Homo sapiens: one gene and its partner. The protein of the gene in region 1 purifies or fractionates together with the protein of each later gene. This does not show direct contact. Each region holds a gene or a part of one and is shown on either strand. Other genes may lie near its edges.

What was found.
Region 2: the proteins of COLEC12 (region 1) and HOMER1 purify together in Homo sapiens (affinity purification with mass spectrometry; 2 studies listed by BioGRID and IntAct, with this or other methods). This does not show direct contact.

What each region holds. Positions count from the first base shown.
Region 1 is NC_000018.10:329,657-333,480, forward strand, and holds part of COLEC12 (collectin-12), read right to left. Parts: intron 3,488-3,824; coding exon 3,351-3,487; intron 2,122-3,350; coding exon 2,012-2,121; intron 1-2,011. UniProt on the Homo sapiens protein: Scavenger receptor that displays several functions associated with host defense. Promotes binding and phagocytosis of Gram-positive, Gram-negative bacteria and yeast.
Region 2 is NC_000005.10:79,391,877-79,395,700, forward strand, and holds part of HOMER1 (homer protein homolog 1), read right to left. Parts: intron 1-3,824. UniProt on the Homo sapiens protein: Postsynaptic density scaffolding protein. Binds and cross-links cytoplasmic regions of GRM1, GRM5, ITPR1, DNM3, RYR1, RYR2, SHANK1 and SHANK3.

The DNA of each region.
Region 1 (3,824 bases):
GAGTCTCTGACAGGCCTGCAGCAGATATCCACTTGCCCTTAAGGGCAGTCTGAGGCTCACCTTCAGAGCAGACCTAAAATCTTCTAATGTTCCAAATCAATATTTCGCCACATGTTTATTTTTTATAAAGAGCTGGCCTGGCTAGGTGCGGTGGCTCATACCTCTGATCCCAGTGCTTTGCGAGGCCAAGGTGGGAGGATCACTTGAGGCTAGGAGTTTGAGACCAACCAGAGCAACATAGTGGACCACGTCTATCCAAAAACTTTAAAAATTAGCCGGGTGTGGTGATGTGCACCTGTGATTCCAGGGACTTGGGAGTCTGAGGTGGGAGGATCGCTTGAGCTGGGGAGATAAGAGGCTGCAGTGAGCCATGATCGTGCCACTGCCCTTCAGCCTGGGCAACAGAGTGAGACCTTGTCCCTTAAAAACAAACAAATAAAAACAAAAGAGAGATGGCCTTATTCTGGTTTCCTCCTTTATCCTCTGATCCTACTCACATGGAGAATTTGAAAGTACAAAAGAGCCTGTTTATCCAAATGCACATGCACACGCACATAGGGACATTTAAAAAACTCGATCTGGCTTCTCCATCACCTCTGACCCTCCTCCCTGCTGCTCAGCTGATACAGGGCTAGGCCTCCATGCCCATGAGACTCTCTTAGGCCTGAAACACCCTTGTTTTCTCCTCTCCTGGGACAGCCCCAGAGGCCACACCGTGGACTTTGCCTAGTGCTCTCAGAAGGTGCTTCCAATGCGGTGATGCTCCTGTGCCTGGTGGAGCCCTGCAGGGTCTGGCCTCTCCGTCCCCAGCAAACTAAAGGTTACTCAGAGGGTTTTTTTTTTTTTTAATTTTATTTTTTTTATAAATTCTGCTTCATTTGTTACAGTTCCTTGCAATTTTCACACCCGTCAGAGGCAAAGCCAGAGTATGGAGATGTGATAATCAAACTGATGCAATACAGTCATTGTTAGATCTTTGGGTAGAATTAGGGAAGGAGCTAACACCCCCTAGGGTAGGATGAGGCCCTGGAGACTTCTAGGTTATCCAAGAAGGTACCTCAAAGTGATTCTATTCTTTGTTGCTCCTTTCATAGAACTTAGGTCACATGGAACTTATGGGGAATCTTCAAACCTCTAGGGGATGGTTATCCCGCAAATGCAACTTTGTTTATAGTGTATTTTAACTTACTATGAGTAGGAAAATCACACATTTGTAGTTTTTTTTTTTTTTTTTCTTTTTTGAGATAGAGTCTTGCTCTGTGGCCCAGGCTGGAGTGCAGTGGCGCCATCTCGGCTTGCTACAACCTCCGCCTCCTGGGTTTAAGCAATTCTTCTGCCTCAGCCTCCCGAGTAGCTGGCATCACCCGCATGCGCCACCATATCCGGCTAATTTTTGTTTTTTTTGTTTTTTTAGTAGAGACGAGGTTTCACCATGTTGGCCAGGCTGGTCTCGAACTCCAGACTTCAAGTGATCCGCACACCTCAGCCTCCCAAAGTGCCGGGATTACAGGCGTGAGCCACTGTGCCCAGCCAGGAAAATTACTCATTTGTAGTTTCTAATCACACTCTGCCTAGAAGCCCAACTAGGGGTCAGGGGCACCCACAGTGTGATCCTGAAGGGAGCTCCCCAGTCCTTGGAAACACGCCTGGGGCGAACGCTGAACATGCCTGAGGTTGCCTGGGCTTCATCATCTTTTCCCATAGCATTTAAAGAAAATGACTTGGCCAGAAGTATTATGCTGTGTGGTTTTATGAGTTTCATGATTTTTTTCTTAGAAATGAAAAAAAATTCACTCCATGAAAAGAAGAAAGGAAAGCCTTATTTGACAGCGTATCAACTGTCAACCACGATTTCCCCAGGGGAAATATGCAACTGGTACCAGGAGCCCCGGTTTGGGAGGAGCGTCTAGGACACGAGGTCATTAAGGAAGAAACTGTTGGGAGTCGGGCAAGAAGTGACAACAGAACAGTGAGAGCCTGACCACCAATCTGGAAGCTTCTGAGTACTTACTTGTAGTCTGGAGATGTCCCATCCAGCCACTTCCATTCATTTTCACGCTCTGAGTCTGTGAGGCCGATCCAGTGGCTCTCTCTCCCTACCATCTGTTTTTTTATCCATTGCTGAAAAACAAAGCAGGGGTGGTGCGTGACTATTTTTCAGAACAGATGTCTCAGGCCTTTTTCTTTTATTTAACATTTAGAAAAAAGGACAATTTAAAAGAGGATGGTTGTCAGAATGTGTAGCCTGCTTTTGCTTTCTGCTTTTTTCTTGCTACTTGCTTTGTTTTGTGCTGTTTGGGGGGCTTTGACTTTTTTCCTCTTACAAGTTTACAACGGATGTTAAAGTGAGGCTCTTCCTCTAAATCACTCAGACAACCCAGTGAATGTCCATTGGTCCCACTTCCTCCTACCACCCACCCATTTCTCCCATGTCCTAATCATAGGAATAGTCATGATATTCTTGGGCACTTCCTCTGGGCTGGGCCCCACGTGCAGTGTGTTGCACGCAGTGTGTCTCCAAGCTTTTATAACAACCCACTGAACAAACATGAGAAGTAGCTGAGCTGGGCTTGGGCCCTGGTCTGTGTATTCTAAAGCCCAGGTGCTTGGTCACTGTCTGCCGTGTGCTCATTCCAGTCAGTTACTACAGGAAACATCTGTTTACAGGATTGTGTCTGCTGGAGATAACTTAGGGAGAAGGGAGGAGGCCACTGGAATTGGTGTGGTATCAAAGAAAGCGCTGCATTGTTGCTAGATGGGCTGCAGTTTTGGTCTCAGTCTGCATAAACCTTGCCGGGCCTCAGTTTTCCTAGCCGTCAAATGAGGGTAATAATAATACCTATGTTCTAGGGTTGCTGTGAGGTTCAAGGGAGCAAATGCCTCTCACGGTGCCTGGCATATAGAGGGTCTAATGAGTGGACACTAGCATTAGCATGCGTGGGCTCTGCCTCCTCAGCCTTCTTCGCTCTTCCTGACTCCTCTGGAGCCATGCGTGGTCCCTTGCACCCCACTCCATCCCTACAGTGTTCATGCCTCTCTCTGTCCCCACAGGTGCCTGGTGGCAGCCCTCAAGCTTCTCTGCATTATAATTATTTCAACAGCCACCAGAAGGAGCCACACATCTCCAGGCTTGATAGGCAATATCTTCCAGGAAGAATCATGAAGATACAATTCCAATGCCACGAATGCTTCTAGCCACTGGATGAAACCCAAATCTCTGTAATGTTGCCTCCCATGTTTACGTGACTAGGAATTCGTGATATCTCTGAATCCCCAACAAGCCTGCAATTTCCAGATGTAAACTATCCTTAAATTATAGTTTTCCCCAACCAAGTATGTGGCAGGCATACCTGTTCCTCTCTAGTGTTTATGAAAACAAGATGTGAAGACTTGTCTTCACAGAAAAGCTTTGCATCCTCAAAAATTTCTTTCTCAACTGAAAAATAGTAGCATTTGTCTGTGAAGTTCTTCCAGTGAGGCGGGCAGCCTAGGAATGCAAAAGTGGAAAACATTGATTAAAAGATCACAGAAAGCACTCTGCCTTTCTTCAGCTGTGTTTCAGAGGCCAAAACTGTGGTCCCGCTGGGAGCAGCCTGAGCGTCCCTGCACGAGGCCCACAGCTGACGTTCACGGACGTGCTCGCAGCAAGCATGACCCAAAGTGGACTGCAGAGCACAAGCCAAAACCACATAATCTGGAAAAGATCTTTGACTGGGTCTTTGTTCTTCTGTGTCTGGATCCGTCTTCACAATGACAGAAATAACAGAAGCAACAACAAGAAGCAGGGCAGGCACAGATGTTCAGCGTCAGTCTGGAATCATACG
Region 2 (3,824 bases), on another chromosome or scaffold:
ATGCACAGCATGACAATGCATGACAATGTTTTGATCAACCATGAACAGCATATGCAACAGTGGTCCCATAAGATTATAAGGGAGCTGAAAAACTCCTATCACCCAGCAGCTGCCATATCATCACAGCACAATGCCGTACTCATGTGTTTGTGGTGATGCCGATATAAATAAATCTACCGTGCTGTCAGCTGTATAAATGCATAGCACATACAATTATGTATAGTACATAATACTTAATAAAAATAAATGGCCATGTCACTGGTTTATATATTTATTATACTATACTATTTATTACTATTCAAGTTATTTTAGAGTGTACTCCTTCTACTTATTTAAAAAAACATTAATTATCTGACAGCCCCAGGCAGGTCCTTCAGGGGGTATTCCAGAAGAAGGCATTGTTATCATAGGAGATGACAGCTCCATGCCTGTTATTGCCCTTGAAGACCTTCTAGTGGGACAAGATGTGGAGGTAGAAAACAGTGATATTGATGATCCCAACCTTGTGTAGGCATCAGCTAATATGTGTGTTTGTGTCTTCGTTTTTTAAAAGAAGTTTAAAAAGTTTTAAAAACATTTTTTAATAGGAAGAAAGGTTACAGACTAAGGATATAAAGAAAATAGTTTTCTACAGCTGAATACATGTTTATGTTTGCAGCTATTACAAAAAAGTAAAAAGTTAAAAAAATTTTAAATGTTTATGAAGTTAAAATGTTACAGTAAGCTAAGGCTAATTTATTATTGAAGAAATAACATTTTAAAAAATAAATGTAGTGTAGTCTAAGTGCAGTGTTGATAAAGTCTACAGCAGTGTATGGTAATATCTTAGGTCTTCAAATTCACTCACCACTCACTCACTGACCCACCCAGAGCAACTTCCAGTCCTACAGTTCCATTCATGATAAGTGTCCTATTCAAGTGTACAATTTTTACCTTTTCTACTGTATTTTTACTGTACCTTTTCTATCGTTTCTACTGTATTTTTACTCTACCTTTTCTGTGTTTAGATGTGCTTAGATACAAATACATGAATACTTACCACTGTCTTACGAGGGAGGGAGGGAAAAGAAGGGAAAGGGAGAGAGAGAGAGAGAGAGAGAGAGAGAGAGAGAAGAGAGCCATCCAGAATAAAACAAAGCAAATATAGCCAAAATGACATTTGGGGAATGTAAGTAAAGGGTATATAAAAAATTTCTGTATTATTCTTGCAACTTTTCTGTAAGACTGAAATTATTTCAAAATAAAAAGTTTAACTAAAGAACTTATTTATGTAACCAAACACTGCCTGTTCCCAAAAACCTATTGAAATAAAAATAAATAGCTTAAAAACAAAATAGAAATAAAAAACAAGATCATTTCAGCTAGTGATAAGTACTAAAAGGAAAATAAAAAATGGTAATACTACAAAAAATACCTGGGATGGGGTGTGGGGACTGTAGCATAGTCCTTAAATTGGGAAGTCAGAGAAATTAACATCTGAACTAAGACCTAAACTAAAAATAGAAGCCAGCCATCTGAAGATTTGGGCAAAGAATTCCAGGCAAAGATATTCCACATGCTCTAAGGTGAAAATGCACTCGTGACTTCAAGATACAGGTAAAGACTAAATGCATGTGAAAAATTGTTCAATGTTATTCATAATTTAAAAATTAACTAAATAGTTGAGTCACTTCATTTCTTAAGAGATGGCAAAGAACGGGTCCAGGGGGTACCAATATCCAGTGGGTACCCTGCTTTTCCAGATGTCAATTTCCCAGCATAAGAAATTTTAAAACATTGACACCAAGCAATTCTTGTTTGAAAGTTTATCTTAAAGAAATAATCAGAAAGGCAAAGATTTATGAAAAAGGTTGTAATATTATTTATTTATAGCATAACACTGGAAACAACATAAACTGCCATTACTATAGGAATGCTGGAAGAAAACTATGATACCTCTATATGGGAGAATTCTATGCAGCCATTGGGCTTATGACATAAAGTTAGATAAAAATGTATACAAACAAAAAATGGTATCTATATCCATCTCTTATAAAGAAAATATTATCTAAACCAACACTGGGACAAGGAAATGCCAGTTACCTTGCCTTAAGATGACAGGATTATGATTTTTTTAATATTATGGAATTATGATTTTATACTAACCTTGCTAAGTACATTTTTTGAAATTTTTCTAATTTTTTTTACAATGGGCATGTTTTTCATAGACATTTATAACAGAAATATCCAAATATTGCCAAATATCAAAAACTCATAAATTAGAAAAACTGTAGCACGGTATCCTTAATTTACCAATAACTATACATTTTCTATCCACATTCAACTCTAAATACTAATCCAACTCTAAATACTGCAATTTCAGGATTCTTTTCCAAGGAATTTAATGATCCCAATTTTCTGTACTGAACTTATGAATGGAGTTCAAGGGTGCTGGGACCTTTGATAAACAGGAGATGTTTCTGTGGGAGGGAGAAGGCTGCAGAGGAGGAAATTTCTTTGAATTGGAAAAAATATGTTATTTTCTGTAGCTTGTTCTTTTAGAATTCATCCTCAGGTTTTCTAAAAGCTTCCCTGTCCTGTTCTAGGTAGGTTGTTTTGATAATATTTTTGATATTCAGTGAAAGGATGGGTAAGAATTATATTCACAATTTCAAGTGCCAGCTATAAAATTCAATTACTGCTCTATCAATGATGAAATCCATTCATTCATACATTTATTGAGAAAGGGTCTCATTCTGTCACCCAGGCTGGAGTGCAGTGGTGTGATCATAGCTCACTGCAACTCCCAACTCAAGCGAGGCTCAAGTGATCCAAGCAGCTGGGACTACAGGTGCACACCACCACTCCCAGCTAATTCTACTGTTTCATTTTTTTGTAGATGCAGCATTTCGCTATGTTGCCCAGGTTGGCCTTGAACTCCTGGCCTCAAGAGATCTTCCTGCCTCAACCTCCCAAAGCACTGGGATTATAGGCATAAGCAACTATGCCTGGCTTCAAATACATTTAGAATTATCAACATTAGAAATTTGATATAAATATATCATCTCTTTGTTTCTCTTCATAAGTGAGACAATGTAAATGTGTATATAACTGAAAATACTTTTTAAAAGAATCATTAAGGATGACTTGACTGTTTGTTGCTTGAAGAAGTGTGGTAATGCAGAAAGAACGGACTTTGGAATAAAATAAATCTAGGCCTCATTACTTTCTAGCTAAGTGCCTTAATTAAACTTGTTAACACCTTTGAACTGCTGTCTTCTCTTTGAAAATGGGGATACCTCACCTGCTACTGTGAGAATTAGAGCTAATGTAAGTTAAGTGCTTAACATATGCTTGAATCATCGCAAGTACCCGAAACCCAAAACAAACGAAAGACAAAACTTGACTGAATTTCCCCCTTTCTTCCAGCCCTGATTCCATGCTTCATATTTAAGTTCTACATCAGGATTTCTCAACCTTGGCATTATTGACATTTTGGGTTGGATAATCTGATTCTTAGCAGCATCTCTGGCTTTGTCTACTAGATATCAGTGGCGCTCCACTAATTGTGAAAATAAAAAATGTTTGCACACATTGCTAAATGTCCCCTGGGCTTCAAAAGTGCCCCAAGTTGATGACCACTAATCTATATAGACGACTAAAATATACAAACGGCATTTAATAGGGCCAACCAAAACAAGTGATCTCATTTTTCCCAGACTACTGAAAGCCAGTGATGGGAAGGGGAGAGGTAAATATTCCATTTTATATAAGGAATCTGTTTATTTCATGAAGGATTATTATGAAGGGGTTTAAAGCCCATGTCTTTGACTACTAAAATAATG